Homo sapiens: one gene and its partners. The protein of the gene in region 1 purifies or fractionates together with the protein of each later gene. This does not show direct contact. Each region holds a gene or a part of one and is shown in the gene's direction. Other genes may lie near its edges. The genes, in order: B3GAT1, STK26, PDXDC1, ECPAS, KLHL36 and PCYOX1.

Region 1 (3,235 bases):
AATGATGTTGAGAGAAGCTAAATGAATGTTCCAAGGTGACACACTGGCACGAGTGAATTGTGCTGGGTGGTTGGCAAAGCCAGGCATTTTCAGGGGCTTTTCTGTGATCTTATCCTGTCTCTTAAAAGCAGCTGGTACTCCTGACTCCCTACTCTAGGTTATGCCAAACAGAGGTTGAGGCCTGAGACAGACATTTGTCCTCTTGCCCTGGAGCTAAGCAATAGCTTCTGTATTGTGTTTGCCCGCAGAGGACCACAGGGTGTCACTCAGTCACCTTGGCCAGCGCCACTTAGAATGCATCTGTACCGAGCCTCACTTCTGCCTCCTGCCCTCACTGCCCTCACTGGAAGCACCTTCCCCACCTGCCCCTCAGAAAGGCCCCCACAGGACCTGGGGGCCTGGGCTTTGCAGAGGTCCTGGTGGCCCTGCCTGGCCATTCCCTCCCCGGCCCCACCCTCAGCCGACACCTCACTCATTCCTCCTCTCCCCTCACAGGAGCCTCCTCCTCAGACCCTGTTCTTGGCCTTCCATCCTCTCCCCACGGCTGATGGTCCCTCCAAGGCCGACTCCTAAGGAATCACCATCACCCTCCTTTCTATTCTGGGGGCTTCTGAGAGAGCCCAGCCTGATGCCAGAACAAAGGACAGAGAATTTAAGCACAGAAATCCCAGACCTGTTGTTCTCTCCATCCAGCGTGACCAGGGCCCGAGAGACCTGATGGCCAGGGTGGGGTGTCCAGCACCAGCCAAGCTGGTGCTCCAGCGCACCTCCCCAGAGCTCCCCGCACTGACGGGGCTGCAGGAGCAGGTGCAGTGGGCGCCCACACTGGCCCTGCAGTGATGCAGGGCGGGAGGGAGATAAGAAGACCCCGCAGTCAAGTGGAGCATGGCCCTCCCTGGCTCCCTGTCCCTGGGCTCAGCACGACCACACAGGACACCCAGCCAGGGAATTCTGAAGACCAGAGAGCAGCCCACGGGCATCACGAGCGCTCTGCTCCTCTCCTGGGCCCCTGCTCTTCCCGAGAGCTGCCCCCAAATCAGACATACCTCTGTGGCTCTCCTCTGGTTCACGTTTACAGAGCATAAGGCTGTCTTGGATCCCAACAGGCACCCAGCCCTGCATGGGGGGAGCCTGGGCCTAATAGGCACCCCCTGTACCTCAGGCTGTGGCGGGAGCAGAGTCCCCCCCTCCGGCCCCTCTTCCTTTACCCCTTCTCCTCCAGCAGTGGCAAAGGGGTAGGCTCTAGAGCCAGCACAGGTCACTGCCTGACCTGGACTAAGAACCCCACGGCCCCACTGTCCACACACTGCCTCCCCACCGCCCACCTCGGCTGCTAGGCCCCTCGCCTGGACTGGACTGGGGAGGGAAAGCGCCTTTTCCTGCAGCTCTTCAGAGCCACAGACCTCAGGGTGGAGTGAGCCCATGGTGGGCAGTGGGCAAGGCGGTGGGTGGTGGGCAAGGTGGGACCTCCTGCAGCCTGGAAAGAGGAGGGAGGCCAAGGCCATTCCCTAACTCCCTCCTGCCCCTGGTCTGAGGAGGAGGGACTCTGGAGTAGCAGAGGGGCTGGGAAAGAGGGGGCAGGGGCTGCTGGGACACTGAGCAGGAGGGAGGCCTGAGCACACTGCTTTGGAAATTATTCTAAACACAAAAAAGGGAAAGAAAATGTTATTTCTCCCTAAGTCAGGAGCATGCAGAGCTAGCCCACCTCATGTCCAGCTGTCCACTTTCCATCCTGGAGAAAGAACAGTGTGCCTCAAACTCCTGCCCTCCCCAGGCCTCTGGGGCCCACTGGAAAGGGCTCTGACCCCCTGGCCCAGCCGGGCTCTCTAGTGGTGATCCGGCTCATTCTCCTGCAAGTTGGAAGCACAATTTTCCCCCCAAGTGGAGGAAAAGGAAAGGGCCCCAGCCTACTGAAGAGGTGTTTATTTTTTAACTAACAGCCTCCCACCCCATTAAGACTCACCAGGAGAGGTCTGAGGGCCATTCAGAACCCACTCCTGAGTGGGTGGGTGGGTGGGACTCAGTCCAGAGACCTAACATTCAGAATATAGCATTGGTTGCCTATTTTGAGATGGATTTAATCTCCCACAGTATTCATGAGACCATCTGATGGAATCAGATCCCTGAGCCACCTTGCAGGACGTTTTCCCCAACCTCTTACACCCTGGATGTCACTTTGGAAACCAAGCCCTTGGAAGCAAGTGGGGTGGCATGGGAGAGAAGGGAGGAGGTGGGCACAGGTGGTGAGCTTATGTGTGGGCACTCTACTGCCTCACAGAAGCCAGCCAAGTGCCAAGGTCAGCTTGGCTGGTCTGAGGCCACCTTCTTAGCCAAAAACCTAGGGTTCATTTTCAGGACTTTGATAATGAACAACAAAATGGGGACTTCTTTGGGCAGATGCTAGGTCAGTTGTTTTCACCTAATATCCTCTTTTAGCTGCATGTATATTTATTTATAATTATAACCCTGGTGGACTGCAGCCTTCATCTTTATTGGGAATGAGTTTGTTATAAATCAGAAATGGGTCCATGATGACCACTGTTTTCCAAACCCAGTCTGTTCCCTGCTCCCTCGCTGGCAAGCCCCACCACACAGGAGTGAGGCCAGGGGCTAGGAGTTCTAAGAACAGAGGCTGGGGTGAGGGTGGCACCCAGGCAGCTGCATCTGGTCTGTTTTAATTTAACTGTATTTAATTTGCTTTCAAAATTAAAAGTCAAATACAGTTTTTAACAGTCCTAATCCTCTTCAGCCCTGCCTTATTTTGTTCTCATTTATTAATTTAGCTACCCAACAAGTATGTATCAGGTGCCTGTTATGAACAGGCATCATTCTAGGAGCCGACACACAGCAGTGAGAAAACAAGGCTCTCATTTTCAAAGAACTGACCCACTGACGAGAGGAGACAGGCAATAACGAATGCATATTATTTCAGATGCAATCTGTTGTATGGAGGATGAGGGTGAGTCGGGGAGACAGAGGTAGCAGTGGAGAGGGTCAGTGCTCTGTAGGGTGACCACAGAGGCCTCCGTGATAAGTGACCCTTGAGCGAAGCAGCAACACCCTGACATGCAGCTCCCCGGGCCCAAGAAGAACGAACTCTCCACCAGGCGGAACAAGCGTTGCTCAGCCTGCTTACAGATCAGCAGGAAGGCCATCGGGCTCAACTGACGGGGCGGGGGCTGCTGGGGGCAACAGCAGTGAGGGATGTGGTGGGCGTGGGAGAAGGGAGTCCCCA
Region 2 (3,500 bases), on another chromosome or scaffold:
TATTAGGTGCTGAAGATATAAAAGTGAACAAACTCACTACTGCTGTCAAGGCACTCACAGTCCAGTTTTGCACTGAAATGATGCCAATTTTATGGTTAAAGTATGTACAAGGTATAGATGATGCACAAATTAGTAAGTAGTCACTTCTGTCCTTTTCAGGAGTGGCATGAATAAAAGGCCTCCAAAAGGAGGTGATAATGCTAGTAATTTCTATCCAATTTCAGCATTTACATCTAAGTGTTAGCTATTACTGTATTTTACTACATACATAATTATTTGCTCCTTTGTGTGATAATTTTGCTGTCATATTTGTTCCTAAAAAGCTAATTCAGCCCATCATATTCTTTTTTAGAGATCTCATGAGTGATTACGCAGTCTCAGTAGTTTTAGGTTCTCCTCCTAATTCCCATACAATTCCTTGGTGGTACATGTGTGTGTGTGCGTGTGTGTGTATGTGTGTGTGTGTGTGTGTGTGTCTGTGTGTGTATCATTTGCTCATTCTGGTTTACTCTTTCTGGACTGAATCCCGGTATTTCCAGACTCACTCTAGGGCAAAACTGAATCCTTGCTACTTTTAGGCACCTGTGACAAAAACACTATTTTTGGTTGCTGACCTAAAATATTAAATACGCCCTATTTAAAATGGCTATTCCATAATATATTGAAAATTGGTACTGATATGGTTTGACAATTTTATTGGTTGCTTATTTATTCATATTCAATACTCCCATGGAAAATGAGTGACAGCTCTATCTTCTTTTCCTAAGATTTCATATAGAGTGTTTTTTAAGTTGCACAGTAGTATACATGTACTAGTCACCCAGTATTTACTTAATCTTTAAATAATTAAAAACTAGTTTTTTGTTTGTCCCAAATTTTGATTGTAAAGTGTACTCAGACCAGCCAGTGCTACAAAACCATCGTCCAAGATAGCTTCTTAAGGGATTAAATCAAATTATTTTTATCTCCTTCACCCATCATTAACTAAACTCTATGATATAAAACACTACTTTGAAGAACATGTTGCTTCATGATAAAATTGTAGAAATGTGCAGCTGGCTTATGTTGATTATTTGTGTTCTGAATCTATTTAAAGTAAATAAATCTGTGTGTATATACATATGTCTTGAGACATATGTATATACACACAGAGAAAGAAATATTCTATAATCTTACAACGTTTTCATACCATGTATTTAAATCACTTTCTTAAATTGACCAACTCATTTATTTTCCATTTATATTACAACATAGTATGACTGTGTGGGTTTGTATTTTTTTCTAAACTAAAATCACGTCAAATATAACAGGATTCTGTTTCATGTAGTCAACATAAGTCAAGGCCACATCCTCTTTGTGCCATCAGGGAACTGTGTTATCAGTCAACTTACATACTTATTGTGGCCCATTGTTCCATTTCAGGTGACATGGAGGATTTTGTGAGTCAAGTTAATTGAGCAAACTGGGAAATGGGTTGTTCTTACACAGGATGTCATCCATAACTAAGACCTCACTGTAAGCTGGAGGAAAAGTTTATTACATTTGAGAGAAAATTATATGTTCTTTGAAACTGTATGCAGTTGTAGTGATTTCCTTGAGACATGCAAAAAATGTACTAGGTATTCATTTTGACTAAGCTCACTGTATAACTTCATTTTTGAAAACAAGAGTTAAAAACCAGACAAACACATCAGTATGACCACAGTGTTTTCCTTTAATTTTAGTTCACTGGGCAGATTTTCTTGACAAAGTTAGTCTTTATGAAGAGTGCTAAAATAAGCAAACCCTTCCCTTCTGATCTCATAATATTGGAATAATCTTTTATAATCTTTAAATATTTTTCTAGTTCAGTGTAAATCTTAAAATGACACTCAGGCATTGAATAGAATTTGAATCATGCCTTTATTTGCTGCTGAAAATTGCCTTTAGATTTCTGTGTATGTTAAGGAAATATTGCCTCCCACCCACCATCACCAGTATTTATGAAAAAAAAAAGAATTGAATGAAGTAAAATATTTCAGAATCATCTGTACGGCTTTGTGGCCTTCTCCTTATTTTTCACTGAAACTGTATGTGCTTACAGCCAGTTTATGTATGCTCAATGCCTCTGGAATATTCTTTTATTGTTAACATTTGTTTTGGAGTTCTCTTATAAAACTTGAAGAAAATGGAGGCTAGAAAGTTTGTTCCTTCTTAAAATGTTCTTTTCTCAAAATAGGAATAGCTTTAAACTTAATATAATACACCTCTAAGAAGCCCCATGTTAGATTCAATTCAACAGACGCTTATTTATTAATGCCTACTATGTGTATTCCTCTTCTTTTGCATATTGTGGTTAATCTCATCTACTTTCGTCTGACAACTTCTAAACTGATGTCTCTGGTTTCATCCTCTCTGCTCAGCCCCAGATATGTGTTTATAACTTGCTTCATATTAATAGCCTGCTTATCTGTGAGTACATCAAGTGCAATAACCCTCAAACTAGGGAGGTAGCATTTGAACTAAGTCTTGAGAATGATTTTGATAGGGGTTGGAAGGTGCAAGTGGGGTAGGGACACAGCATTCCAAGCTGGAGGAAAATGACTCAGAAGTGGTAAATTTTCTAGCCATATTCTTGGCAAGATGATCTCTACTGTCACTTCCAGTTTTATAAAGTCTTATGTGCTGTATGTTTTTTTTAATCAGGCAAAATATACTTAACACTAAATTTGCCATTTTAAGTGTACAGCTCTCTGGCATTGGCTACATTCACATTGATTTTGTGTTTTTTTTGTTTGTTTGTTTTTTGGGTGGTTTTTTTTTTGTTTTGTTTTTTTGTTTTGCTTTTTTTTTGTGACAGGGTCTCACTCTGTCTCCCGAGCTGGAGTACAGTGGCGCAGTCTTGGCCCACTGCAGCCTCCACCTCCCAGGTTCAATTGATCCTCCCACCTCAGCCTCCCGAGTAGCTGGGACTACAGGCATATGCCACCACACCTGGCTACTTTTTTGCACTTTTTGTAGAGATGAGGACTCCCTATGTTGCCTAGACTGCTCTCAGACTCCTGGACTCAAGCGATCCTCCCACCTCGGCCTCCCAAAATACCAGGATTACAGGCGTGTTGTGCAGCCCTCACCACCACTGATTTCCAGAACAAATAAGGATTCCTTATTTTCAGATCTAGAAATTGAGTAGTTGTAATTTTAATGCTTAATGGTATATACTACTTTGTAAAGTCACATTTCAAGCTTTCTATGAACACGTTTTACTGACAGACAGTTGGCAAGTTTCTGTTTTGAATTAGTACAAACAAAAAGGCACACATTGTTTTTAACTTGGAAAACAGGTGCTTTCATTCATGCAGAACTGCAAAATAGGCAGGCATGTTTTATAAGATCTTTTTCTTTTAAATGTCAGGTGAATGGGAAGCTCTCTGAATTCATATGATAGAGTATAGTACTTGTTAGAAACAAACTTGTGGCAGAAGAAACAATTTTTAACCTATCCACCATTGTAAGAACCA
Region 3 (2,404 bases), on another chromosome or scaffold:
TCTAGGAGGGGAGTCAGCTTGTCTAACTTCATGTACATGTAGAACCACGTTTGCTGTCCTACTACGACTTTTCCCTAAGTTACCATAAACACATTTTATTCACAAAAAACACTTCGAATTTCAAGTGTCTACCAGTAGCACCCTTGCTCTTTCTAAACATAAGCCTAAGTATATGAGGTTGCCCGTGGCAACTTTTTGGTAAAACAGCTTTTCATTAGCACTCTCCAGGTTCTCTGCAACACTTCACAGAGGCGAGACTGGCTGTATCCTTTGCTGTCGGTCTTTAGTACGATCAAGTTGCAATATACAGTGGGACTGCTAGACTTGAAGGAGAGCAGTGATTGTGGGATTGTAAATAAGAGCATCAGAAGCCCTCCCCAGCTACTGCTCTTCGTGGAGACTTAGTAAGGACTGTGTCTACTTGAGCTGTGGCAAGGCTGCTGTCTGGGACTGTCCTCTGCCACAAGGCCATTTCTCCCATTATATACCGTTTGTAAAGAGAAACTGTAAAGTCTCCTCCTGACCATATATTTTTAAATACTGGCAAAGCTTTTAAAATTGGCACACAAGTACAGACTGTGCTCATTTCTGTTTAGTATCTGAAAACCTGATAGATGCTACCCTTAAGAGCTTGCTCTTCCGTGTGCTACGTAGCACCCACCTGGTTAAAATCTGAAAACAAGTACCCCTTTGACCTGTCTCCCACTGAAGCTTCTACTGCCCTGGCAGCTCGCCTGGGCCCAACTCAGAAACAGGAGCCAGCAGAGCACTCTCTCACGCTGATCCAGCCGGGCACCCTGCTTAAGTCAGTAGAAGCTCGCTGGCACTGCCCGTTCCTACTTTTCCGAAGTACTGCGTCACTTTGTCGTAAGTAATGGCCCCTGTGCCTTCTTAATCCAGCAGTCAAGCTTTTGGGAGACCTGAAAATGGGAAAATTCACACTGGGTTTCTGGACTGTAGTATTGGAAGCCTTAGTTATAGTATATTAAGCCTATAATTATACTCTGATTTGATGGGATTTTTGACATTTACACTTGTCAAAATGCAGGGGGTTTTTTTTGGTGCAGATGATTAAACAGTCTTCCCTATTTGGTGCAATGAAGTATAGCAGATAAAATGGGGGAGGGGTAAATTATCACCTTCAAGAAAATTACATGTTTTTATATATATTTGGAATTGTTAAATTGGTTTTGCTGAAACATTTCACCCTTGAGATATTATTTGAATGTTGGTTTCAATAAAGGTTCTTGAAATTGTTACCAGTGAATTCAGTTTATAAATCTTATTACAAAAGACTTACCCACGTACCTGAAATAGCTGCCGATAGACCAGTGAGAGGTAGGTTCTCCTCTGCCCGTTATTACCGACCAAAAAAAAAACTGGACATCAATTTTTTAGTAAACCAAAAAATAAGTCTCAACAAATGCCTTTGCCAAAATAAGGTTTTATTTTGAAAGTCATTTGATGAAAGTCATTTGAAAGACACTGAGGAGGGAAGGAGGCCTAAGACCCAACAGATGTAGGATCCAGATCTGGATTCGTGCCAGCCCCACCAATGGTCTGTCAGGCCAAGAAGGTGCTTTCTTTGGTAATTCATGTTTTTTAACTTCCTGGAGAAGAGATCTTTTCCCACAAGCCATCTTCATTTTTTTTGTAGAGTAGGGCTTTATTTCCAGAAAACAGTGTGTGAGCTGGAGATGGGTGTTTTTTTAAAAACATCAAGGTAGATCTAATATGTTCAACAAAGTGGGGTGGCTCAGCCAGAGGCGAAGTGGAAAGATTCTGAAAACACAAGATGGTGGGCATTAGAGAAGCCAACCTTACTGTCCCCTGCTGTGATAAAGATGTCAAAGTATCTTTGTTCTTGGACACAAATATATATAATAAAATACGTTAAGAAATGAGGTGGCCTGAATTAGTAAGAAAAAAGTTGATTGCTTACTGCTTTACCCACACACATTTCCATCTAGGACTTGACATATCCCCATTTGATATACAAGTTAAATGGGGTCTGTCAATGGCATCCAAAAAGTTACTACCCGCCAAAGGGAAAGCAGCTATGACCTGGTCTAAACCCTTTTTTTCTTACAGATGGGGAAACCAGGGTGCAGAGATTTAAGACTTACCCAGCCTGTAAACTCTCACCTCTAGTATTTGCTTGTCATCTTGGTGCAACCAGAAATCCACATGTGGAAATGGTGTCCAGGAGTACGGTCCTATACGAAGTTGTTCTGTCTCTGCATCATAAATGCTAATCATCTAAAAAAGAACGTGTCAAGGATAGAATTTCAGGAATGTCACCCACTTTTCAAACCCTCCCAGTAACGCAAGCTCCAGTGTAGTCCTTTCATGCATTTATCTGCCTAAGCTTCTTAAAACCTGTCTCAAATAACAAAAGCTGCCA
Region 4 (3,500 bases), on another chromosome or scaffold:
TGGGTGGAGTGTGTAGACCACTGGATAGTCACTGACTTCTAAAATATGTATTATAGTTGTTTATGGTTTAACTCTACGAGGTAAAGCATACACATAGATATTTACATAATAATTTACTTAAAGTACCCTATCTTGTTTTTTAATGTGAGTCAAATTCAAAGATGTAAGCCAGATGAGTCCCCGGACCTCATGCAATTTCTGAAAAGAAGTGATTTCTTATAATGTGTTATGTTGACTCTGCTTAGATAGCCAAGAATGTATTTAAGACATTTTCTGAGAACTCTAGCTGCCAAATAAAATTGCTGTTCTTATTCTTCAAATGATCATTTCCCATTGGTGACATTTATTTTTTATTCTTATTTGTCTTTTTCTGAAAGACGTGAAGAAGTTCATGGAGAAGCACAACGCGTATTAAGGTGTCTTCCAGGTAGAAACAGAAAAGAAAGTACTTCTGAGCAGATGCCTTCCTTCCCAGAAATGGTTTATTACATCCAAGAAAAGGTATGGCATGCAACTTAAGGTAATTAGTCTAAATCATAATGGATGATGAAAATAAAAACATCTTTAAAGTGAAAAATGTAATCACTAGATGTTGACTCATAAAATTTCTTTTTCTTTTCTTTTCTTTTTTTTTTTTGAGATGGAGCTTCGCTCTTGTTGCCCAGGCTGGAGTGCAATGGCACGGTCTTGGCTCACTGCAAACTCCACTACCTGGGTTCAAGTGATTCTCCTGCCCCAGCTCCTGAATAGCTGGGATTATAGGCGCCTGCCACCAAGCCCGGTTAATTTTTTGTATTTTTAGTAGAAACAGTGTTTCACCATGTTGGCCAGGCTGGTCTTGAACTCCTGACCTCAGGTGATCCACCTGCCTTGGCCTCCCAAAGTGCTAGGTTTACAGGCATGAACCACCATGCCCAGCTGACTCATAAAGTTTCTAGCATTAATACTTACAATAAGAAGAAGATACAAAGTGAGGAAAAAAAATTGTAATCCTCACCTGTAATTGATCTGTTTTGCCTAAACTTGAATTACTTATAATTCCTTTCATGCTTGGCAACATTTTGGCTGTGTTAAATATTTTTTCCCTTAATATGACATGCTTAAAAATACATCTCCTTTTTTTAAAATTTTTTTATTTTTTTTTGAGACAGGGTCTTGCTCTGGTCACCCAGGCTAGAGTGCAGTGGTGTGGTCTCAGTTCACTAAAACCTCCACGTCCCAGACTCAAGTGATCCACCCTCCTCAGCCTCCCGATAGCTGGGACTACAGGCGTGCACCACCGTGCCTGGCTAATTTTTTTATTTTTTGTAGAGACAGAGTTTTGCTATATTGCCCACGCTGGTTCTCCTTTTTATTTTTAAGGGCACGCTTTAGGGTAGTGTAAGTTTAAGGATGCTTCAGGGAACAGTTCATGTTCTTCCCACCGTGTTCATAAGAGAGCATCCCATCTGCTTTTGTAAGTTTTTGCTTTTGCACAGTGTTTTCTGCTAGTAGATCCAGGATATTGGCAGTAATGACCATCCACCCCCTCCAGGCCTTGACTCTGTCCCACTTTGCCGGAGGACACCTTCCTACCTTTTACCTCCACTGGTGATCCTAGCTCTTTGCTAGGTAGGCACCTTAAGGGAGTTGAAGGTCAGTATGCAGCGGCCATGATTCTGTTTTCCACATAGCAGCACAGTCTATTTGTGGTCAGAAGATTCTCTGCTTGTAGTTTCCTCCTACTTTGATTATTAATGAAAATAACTGGCATGCAGTGACCTGAGATGACCATATTAGTAGATGTCTGGAATAGGTTTATTATTTTTAAACAAACCAGAACAAACATGGAAAAAGGGCAATACACTTGTCTTTTAGTGTGTGAGGGACATGCACGATCAGCATGGTTAATAGGAAAGTGGAAAATGTTTGATCAGAAAAAGAAGCAAACTTAGGACATGTAGCTAGAAACACAGTTGTTTTTGAGTTGAGGAAGGGCAGGTATGCTTCATTTTTCAGTAATTGTGTCTGTTTTGGACTTTTTAAACTTAGGCTTCTCATCGAATGAAAACTCCAGTCAAGTACATGACCGGGACCACTGTCCTTCCATTTAACCCAGCAGCCTTTGGAGAGGTAGAACTTTCATATATTTCTATTTACTTTTTGTAAGTGTTCTAAAAAGATCACACCACACCCAAAGAGGGGTCTGTCATTTTGTTGTGTTTTAGGTAAACCCATATTGTGGTGTCATTGTTCTTCATCGGGTTGTTTATTTAAAAAAAAAGTATTGGGAAATTGGTATTATTTTAATTCATAGTGAAGTATGTAAATATATTTATCTCAGTGAGATTCTTTTTGTGAAAAAACTGGATGTTCTGTAGTGATTACTATTGGGATTTTGCAGCAAGTTAGATTTGGGTTTTAAAGCCAACCTGTTGTTGAGGTTGTTAGGGTTATTTAGTTTTGAAGGTTGGAGAGGATTAAATTGATCACACTTATTAAGGGAAATTCTGTTTTTTAGATTATTGACTTGCTCTAGGTAAATTACAAGAGGTGATCTTGTTCGGATTAAGAATATTCACAGTGAATTTGCTGCCTATCCTATTTTAACGATCAATGAAAAAGCTTCCAGAGGATGGACTCCTTGGCAGCCTGTTTATGTAAGGGTTGTTTTTTTTGTTTGTTTGGTTTTTTTTTTTTTTGAGAAGGAGTCTCACTCTGTTGCCCGTGCTGGAGTACAGTGAATGGCGTGATCTCGGTTCATTGCAACCTTGCCTCCTGGGCTCAAGTGAACCTCCGTCCCAGTCTCCTGAGTAGCCATGACTACAGGCGTGCACCACCACCCCTGGCTAATTCTGTTATCTTTTTGGTAGAGATGGGTTTCACCATGTTTCCCAGGCTGGTCTTGAACTCCTGAGCTAAAGCAGTCCTCCTGCCTCAGCCTCCCAAAGTGTTGGGATTACAGGCGTGAGCCACTGTGTCTGGTCTATATCAGAGGTTTTTATGGTGTTATATCTATTTTTCTGTAGATGAATTGAACCCATTTTCTCAGATTCTTGTGTCAATGGAGTAAACACAACTGGAATTCTGCAGGAGTAATAGGCCATTTACTTCAGATTTCTTTCCTCTCTCTCTGTCTTTCTCTCTCTCTCACACACACACACACACACACACACGGCTTTTAAAAAATAATGATTTTTATTATAATTTTTAACTTTTATTTTAGGTTCGAGGGTACATGTGAAGGTTTGTTATATAGGTAAATATGTGTCATGGGGGTTTGTTGTATATACTATTTCATTACCCAGATATTAAGCCCAATACCCCATAGTTATCTTTTCTGCTCCTCTCCCTCCTCCCACCCTCTCTCCTCAAGTATACCCCAGTGTCTGTTGTTTGCTTCTTTGCGTTCAGAAGTTCTTATCATCTAACTCCCACTTATAAGTGAGAACATGTGGTATTTGATTTTCTGTTCCTGCGTTAGTTTGCTAAGGATAACAGCCTCCAGCTCCAATTTCTGA
Region 5 (3,500 bases), on another chromosome or scaffold:
AAGCCCGGTGTAGGCCAGCCTGGCTCTCTTTGTGGGTAACCAGGATAAATAGAGATCTCCACGTGTGTGACCTGTGAACTGAAAAGCCAGCCTGGAATGGAAGAGCGGGAGAGCCCGTCCTCTGAACTCAGAAGGAAATGCCAAGTCGGATCTGTCTGGCATCCTCCACAGGCTGTGAGAATGTGGCCTGCTCCTGTAGCATGGACAGAGAAGTTGCTGTTGGAATTGACTGGATGTGGAAATACCACAGGGAAATAAAGTGTCTCAATGACAAACGCATGTATGGCAACAAAAAGAAGATTTGAAAGGGAAGAAAAAAATAAAACCCACTGCTGTAGGACACATGTTAAGAAGCAACTTTTAAGAATTCAGAGCCTGGGCAGTTTAGGGAGACGTTGTCCCTGCAAATTATAAAAATCAGACAGGCGTGGTAGCGTGTGCCTGTAGTCCCAGTTACTCAGGAGGCTAAGGCGGAAGAATCACTTGAGCCCAGGAGGTCAAGGGCGACATAGTGAGACCTCGTCTCTACAAAAAAATTTTAAAATTAGCCAGGCATGGTGGCACACACCCGTAGTCCCAGCTACTCAGGAGGCTGAGGTGGGAGAATCACTTGAGCCCAGGAGGTCAAGGGTGCAGTGAGCCGAGATTGTGCCACTGCACTCCAGCCTGGGCAACAGAGTGAGACCCTGTCTCAAAAAAAAAAAAAAAAAAGTCGAACCACATAGCTGCTAATACCTAATAGCCCTCGGTCAGTTTTCTTCCTCCAACCACATTTCCCCTCTTCAGGCTAGTGCCCAGCCAGTTCTTCACCTCAGTCACCCTGGAATAGACCAGCTATCTATGTGATAGTTTTCAGTTACCTGTTTCTCCCTATGTTGAATTCATTTATTTATTTATTTAGAGACAGGGTTTCTTTTTGTCGTCCAGGCTGGAGTGCAGTGGCACAATCATGGCTCACTGCAGCCTCAAGCTCCTGGGCTTGAGCGATCCTCCTGCCTCAGCCTCCTGAGCAGCTGGGACTACAGGCGAATGCCACCACGCCCACCTAATTTTTAAATATTTTGTTAAGACAGGAATCTCGCTATGTTGCCCAGGTTGGTCTCGAACTTCCTGGCCTCAAGTGATTCTCCCGTCTCAGTCTCACAAAGCATTGAGATTACAGGCATGAGCCACCATGCCTGGCTTGAATTGTTGTGTTGTTTGGTTTTGGGTTTTTTTGGTTTGTTTTTTGTTTTTTCTTGTTTGTTTTGTTTTGTTTGTTTGTTTTTTGTTTTTTGAGACGGAGTTCTTGCTCTGTCTCCCAGGCTGGAGTGTAGTGGTGTGCTCTTGGCTCACTGCAACCTCCATCTCCTGGGTTCAAGCAATTCTCCTGCCTCAGCCTCCTGAGTAGCTAGGATTACAGGCACACGCCACCATGCCTGGCTAAATTTTGTATTTTTAGTAGAGACAGGGTTTCACCATGTTGGCCAGGCTGCTCTCAAACTCCAGTAGCCGGGCTGTCGTCCCAGCTACTCAGGAGGCTGAGGCAGGAGAATCACTTGAACCCGGGAGGCAGAGGTTGCAGTGAGCTGAGGTTGTGCCACTGCACTCCAGCCTGGGCGACAGAGCAAGGCTCTGTGTCAAAAAAAAAAAAAGAAAGAAAGAAAGAAAGAAGTTATATTAATAAGAGAAGGAAAAAAAAAACCACGATACACAGGCATACTCAGAAACACCTGTACTTCCTGCAGTGCCCTCTGATGCAGCATTTTATTTCCTGTTTTCTTCAGTTTCATTTTGTTGAAAATGCTGGTCAGGACCCACTGGGTTGGACCAGGGCCGAGCAGGCTGCTGCGCCGTTTCTAATGTGTCTTCTCTGTCCAGGTATACCGCTGGGCCGACCACTCAAGCACGGTGCTGCAGCGGCTGAACGAGCAGCGTCTCCGCGGGCTCTTCTGCGACGTCGTCCTGGTGGCCGATGAGCAGCGTGTGCCAGCCCATCGCAACCTGCTGGCCGTGTGCAGCGACTACTTCAACTCCATGTTCACCATCGGCATGCGGGAAGCTTTCCAGAAGGAGGTGGAGCTGATCGGCGCCTCCTACATTGGGCTCAAGGCCGTGGTGGACTTCCTGTACGGCGGGGAGCTGGTGCTGGATGGCGGCAACATTGACTACGTCCTGGAGACGGCTCACCTGCTGCAGATCTGGACGGTGGTAGACTTCTGCTGTGAGTACCTGGAGCAGGAGGTGAGCGAGGACAACTACCTGTACCTGCAGGAGCTGGCCTCCATCTACAGCCTCAAGCGGCTTGATGCCTTCATCGATGGCTTCATCCTGAACCACTTCGGCACGCTGTCCTTTACGCCCGACTTCCTGCAGAACGTCTCCATGCAGAAGCTGTGTGTCTACCTGAGCAGCAGCGAGGTGCAGCGGGAGTGTGAGCACGACCTCCTGCAGGCCGCCCTGCAGTGGCTGACGCAGCAGCCCGAGCGCGAGGCCCACGCCCGCCAGGTGCTGGAGAACATCCACTTCCCGCTCATCCCCAAGAACGACCTGCTGCACCGCGTCAAGCCGGCCGTGTGCTCGCTGCTGCCCAAGGAGGCCAACTGCGAGGGCTTCATCGAGGAGGCCGTGCGCTACCACAACAACCTGGCGGCCCAGCCCGTCATGCAGACCAAGCGCACGGCGCTGCGCACCAACCAGGAGCGCCTGCTGTTTGTGGGCGGCGAGGTCTCCGAGCGGTGTCTGGAGCTCAGTGACGACACCTGCTACCTGGACGCCAAGAGCGAGCAGTGGGTCAAAGAGACGCCGCTGCCCGCCCGGCGGAGCCACCACTGTGTCGCGGTGCTGGGGGGCTTCATCTTCATCGCCGGCGGCAGCTTCTCACGGGACAACGGAGGGGATGCGGCCTCCAATCTTCTTTATAGGTATGACCCCCGCTGTAAACAGTGGATCAAGGTGAGATTAAAGCCAGATTATTTCTTTTCTCTTGAGGACTCTCTCGGTTTCCTTAACCTAGCCTTGACTTTCCTTACCTCTCTGGGGCCTTGACAACTATCCTGCTTCTGAATGAGGTGTGATGATAAAGTGACGAGCAGAATACCCCGGGGCCTACATCCTGGACAGGGAGAGGGAGAGCCGACCCACCCCTTCGAGGGGTCCGTCATCGTTCAGAGCAGCACTGCCTGGCGGGGCTTTCTGTGCAGATGGAAGGGTCTGTCTGTACTTCCCGATACGGTAGCCACAGCCGCATGTGGCGACTGAGCACTTGAAATGTGGCCAGTGCGACTGAAGAAGTCAATTTTCAATTTTATTTCACTTTAACCGATTGACGTGTAAGTGTATGTGGCCGCACGAGGCGTGGCTACCCTATTGGACAGTAGCATGGGTCTAGATGTTTGATCCATGGTTCAACATCCCCAGGTCCTGGAGTCTCTGTGGGGCTCCTCTGGAAGCATTTTGGGAGATAGTTTAAGGAGACCACTAGTGCTCACGCCTGGCCCTTGGGCATGTATTGTGTCCTG
Region 6 (3,500 bases), on another chromosome or scaffold:
GTTTGTGGTAATTTGTTATAGCAGCAGTGGAAAACCAAGACACCTCCTAAATCATCTGCCATTACTGTTATATTGCTACCATTTGTTCTCAGGTTAGCAGCCAAAGTAGTTCTTTAAAATCTAAGGCTCATCACATCACTCCACTAACTCAGAAACCTTCAGTGGCTATTTCATTAATAGAGATTTATAGCCAAAATCTGTTTTGTGACTGAGAAGACATGACAGGATTCTGTGCTCTCATCCCTTACTTTTAAATTTGTTTTCCCCAAAATTCATAGGTTGAAACACTAGCCACCCAGTACTCAGAATGTGACTGCATATGTATGTAGGGCCTTTAAATATGTGATTAAGTTAAAATGAGGTCTTTAGCGTAGACCCTAAAACAATTTGATGGGTGTCCTTAAGATTAGGACACAGAAAGGAGGCCAAGGCGGGCAGATCACCTGAGGTTGGGAGTTCGAGACCAGCCTGACCAACATGGTGAAACCCCTTCTCTACTAAAAATACAAAAAATTAGCTGGGCGTGGTGGTGCATGCTTGTAATCCCAGCTACTCAGGAAGGCTGAGGCAAGAGAATCACTTGAACCTGGGCGGCAGAGGTTGCAGTGAGCCATTGCACTCCAGCCTGGGCAACAAGCGTGAAACTCTGTCTCAGAAAAAAAAAAAAAAAAATTGGGACACAGAAGAAACACACAAAGACCATGTGAGGACACAGCAAGAAGGTGGCCATCTGCAAGCCAAGGAAATAGGCCTCAGAAGAAACCGAATGCATCCACACCTTGATCTTGGACTTTTGGCCTACAGAACTATAAGAAATAAAACTTTTTTTGTTTAAGCCATCCAGTCTTTGGTACTGTGTTATGGCAGTCTTGGTGAACTAATACACTGTTGTCATTTTCAGTAACTGTCCATTATTGAAAATGGGATATTGAAGTCTCCATTATTGTTGAACTATGTATTTCAGTTCTGTCAAGATCATTTGATCATATTCATGAAGGTTTATTTCTGGGTTTTCTTATTTGTTTCAAGGATCTGTGTGTCTGTTTTTTTTTTTTTTTCAGATGATGTTTTACTCTGTTGCCCAGGCTAGAGTGTAGTATGTTCACAGCAACCTCTGCCTCCCAGGCTCAAGCAATTCTCCAACCTCAGGCCCCTTGAGTGGCTGGGACTACAGATGTGCACTACCATGCCCAGCTAATTTTTTTTTTTTTTTTTTTGAGACAGAGTCTCGCTCTGTTGCCCAGGCTGGAGTTCAGTGGCGCTATCTCGGCTCACTGCAACCTCTGCCTCCCGGGTTCAAGCAATTCTTGTGCCTCAGCCTCCTGAGTAGGTGGGACTACAGGCATGCACCACCAACCCTGGCTAATTTTTTGTGTTTTTAGTAGAGATGGGTTTTCGCCATGATGGCCAGGCTGGTCTCGAACTCCTAACCTCAAGTGATCCTCCAGCCTGTGCCTCCCAATGTGCTGGGATTACAGGCGTGAGCCACTGCACCCGGCCTTTTTTAAAAAGTTTTTTTGGTCAGCCTCTTGTAGTCTCTATTGATGTCATAGCCTCCGGCATCTGTGATGTTAAACAATTGCCACAGATTTTTTTTTTGACACGTGGACACGTGCCCTCAGGATGGGGCTGTTGCATAGAGTGAACTTTGAATCAGGTCGAATAAAGACAAGCCTTCAGGATAGAGCTTTTTCGGAGCTGCCAGATAGGTCAAATATTGACAGTTCTCTGAGGATAGTGCTTTTTGGGAGCTACAAACTCGTTGTGTTCTCTCCAGTGGCTTCTAGCTTGCTAGTTTCACATTGCAGTTGGAAGGGTGCTGGTTTTATTTTTTATTTTTTTTTCTCTCTCTCTTTTTCTCTTTCTTTCTTTCTTTCGACGGAGTCTCCCTCTTGTCGCCCAGGCTGGAGTGCAATGGTGCGATCTTGGCTCACTGCAACCTCCATCTCCTGGGTTCAAGCGATTCTCCTGCCTCAGCCTCCTGAATAGCTGGGATTACAGGCGTGTGCCACCACACCTGGCTAATTTTTTATATTTTTGGTACAGATGGTGTTTCACCATGTTGGGCAGGCTGGTCTTGAACTCCTGACCTCAAGTGATCCGCCTGGCTCAGCTTCCCAGAGTGCTGGGATTACAGGTGTGAGCCACCATGCCTGCCAGACATTTTTCTTGAATAAATACTCCTTGGACTTGGAAAGGCTTTGGTTTATCTGCAGAGCTCTGAAAGAGTCAATGTTGATCATTTTTGGCAGTATTCTCATAGCTTTTATGGAGGAGCAGATTTCCAGAGGTCCTTCCTCTGCCATTCTGGAAGTTTCCTCTCCCCAGTAACATTTCTGGCTGTACCACTCCCGGTTCTCCCATATCACTCTGCTTCAGCTGCTCTGGCTTCATTGTTTCTTGAATGTGCCAGGCAAGCTTCTGTCATGTGACCTTTGCATTGCTTTTACCTCTACCGGAAATATTTTCCCCCAGGTGTTTGCCTGGTTTGCATCCTCATCTCCTTCGGGTCTTTGGTCTATATCATCTTCTCAGTGAGGCTTTTCCTGACCACTCTTGTTTTTGGACAGTCTTATTTAGAATTCAACCCTCCTAACCCCATGTATTTCTAGTCTTCTTTTCAGACCATTTTCTCCTTTTTTTTTTCTTTTGAGATGGAGTCTGTCTCTGTTGCCCAGGCTGGAGTGCAGTGGCACGATCTTGGCTCTCCTCGGCTCACCTTGGCTCACTGTGCCACTGCACCACTACGCCCGGCTAATTTTGTATTTTTAGTAGAGACAGGGTTTCTCCATGTTGGTCAGGCTGGTCTCGAACTCCTGACCTCAGGTGATCCACCTGTCTTGGCCTCCCAAAGTGCTGGGATTACAGGCGTGAGCCACTGTGCCTGGCCCCAGTTATATTTTTTTAAAAATTATTATTTTTTTGTTTTTGTTTTTGTTTTTTTTAAGACAAGGTCTCACTCTGTTGCCCAAGCTGGATGGAGTGCAGTGGTGTGATCACAGCTCACTGCAGCCTCAACCAGCGGGGCTGAAGTGATCCTCATGCCTCAGCTTCCTGAATAGCTGGGACTACAGGCATGCCTCACCATGCCTGGCTAATTTTTTTTTTTTTTTTTTTCTGTAAGTATTTTATTTATCACTGAAGAAAAAACACAGCAGCAAGTTCTGTGTTGGCTTCAATGAGACCAAATAGTTCATCTTTAACATAGCTACTGCGCTCCAAAATTGAAGTCAACACAGTCATTACTACAAATTACTTGTTGAAAGAATCTATCTTCAAAAGAAAGAAAATTAGGAAAGAGAATTTAAACGATTCCTCCAAACCATACATTTATAAATATTGTCATATTTAAAATGCTTGAAAGGCGTGAATTCTCCATTAATGGAAAAGCAGTTTGCTATTGGCAACAGAAAAAAACTCAGCGATAATTTACCAAATGCTTTAAAATTTAAAAGCTATACTGTTTGGATTCACACTTGCGCAGTAATCTTGTCATTACA

Evidence for each region.
Region 2: the proteins of B3GAT1 (region 1) and STK26 purify together in Homo sapiens (affinity purification with mass spectrometry; one large-scale study listed by BioGRID and IntAct). This does not show direct contact.
Region 3: the proteins of B3GAT1 (region 1) and PDXDC1 purify together in Homo sapiens (affinity purification with mass spectrometry; one large-scale study listed by BioGRID and IntAct). This does not show direct contact.
Region 4: the proteins of B3GAT1 (region 1) and ECPAS purify together in Homo sapiens (affinity purification with mass spectrometry; one large-scale study listed by BioGRID and IntAct). This does not show direct contact.
Region 5: the proteins of B3GAT1 (region 1) and KLHL36 purify together in Homo sapiens (affinity purification with mass spectrometry; one large-scale study listed by BioGRID and IntAct). This does not show direct contact.
Region 6: the proteins of B3GAT1 (region 1) and PCYOX1 purify together in Homo sapiens (affinity purification with mass spectrometry; one large-scale study listed by BioGRID and IntAct). This does not show direct contact.

What each region holds. Positions count from the first base shown.
Region 1 is NC_000011.10:134,378,008-134,381,242, reverse strand, and holds the end of B3GAT1 (galactosylgalactosylxylosylprotein 3-beta-glucuronosyltransferase 1), read left to right. Parts: exon of another isoform or gene 1-488; intron 489-495; 3' UTR 496-2,735; downstream 2,736-3,235. UniProt on the Homo sapiens protein: Involved in the biosynthesis of L2/HNK-1 carbohydrate epitope on glycoproteins. Can also play a role in glycosaminoglycan biosynthesis. Substrates include asialo-orosomucoid (ASOR), asialo-fetuin, and asialo-neural cell adhesion molecule.
Region 2 is NC_000023.11:132,057,802-132,061,301, forward strand, and holds part of STK26 (serine/threonine-protein kinase 26), read left to right. Parts: intron 1-3,500. UniProt on the Homo sapiens protein: Serine/threonine-protein kinase that acts as a mediator of cell growth. Modulates apoptosis. In association with STK24 negatively regulates Golgi reorientation in polarized cell migration upon RHO activation.
Region 3 is NC_000016.10:15,036,429-15,038,832, forward strand, and holds the end of PDXDC1 (pyridoxal-dependent decarboxylase domain-containing protein 1), read left to right. Parts: 3' UTR 1-1,602; coding exon of another isoform or gene 1,603-1,782; 3' UTR 1,783-1,904; downstream 1,905-2,404. Other genes in the region: NTAN1 (protein N-terminal asparagine amidohydrolase), read right to left, coding at 1,603-1,782, 2,146-2,259.
Region 4 is NC_000009.12:111,414,884-111,418,383, reverse strand, and holds part of ECPAS (proteasome adapter and scaffold protein ECM29), read left to right. Parts: intron 1-377; coding exon 378-501; intron 502-2,031; coding exon 2,032-2,112; intron 2,113-3,500. UniProt on the Homo sapiens protein: Adapter/scaffolding protein that binds to the 26S proteasome, motor proteins and other compartment specific proteins. May couple the proteasome to different compartments including endosome, endoplasmic reticulum and centrosome.
Region 5 is NC_000016.10:84,655,011-84,658,510, forward strand, and holds part of KLHL36 (kelch-like protein 36), read left to right. Parts: intron 1-1,860; coding exon 1,861-2,934; intron 2,935-3,500.
Region 6 is NC_000002.12:70,268,137-70,271,636, forward strand, and holds part of PCYOX1 (prenylcysteine oxidase 1 precursor), read left to right. Parts: intron 1-3,500. UniProt on the Homo sapiens protein: Prenylcysteine oxidase that cleaves the thioether bond of prenyl-L-cysteines, such as farnesylcysteine and geranylgeranylcysteine. Only active against free prenylcysteines and not prenylcysteine residues within prenylated proteins or peptides.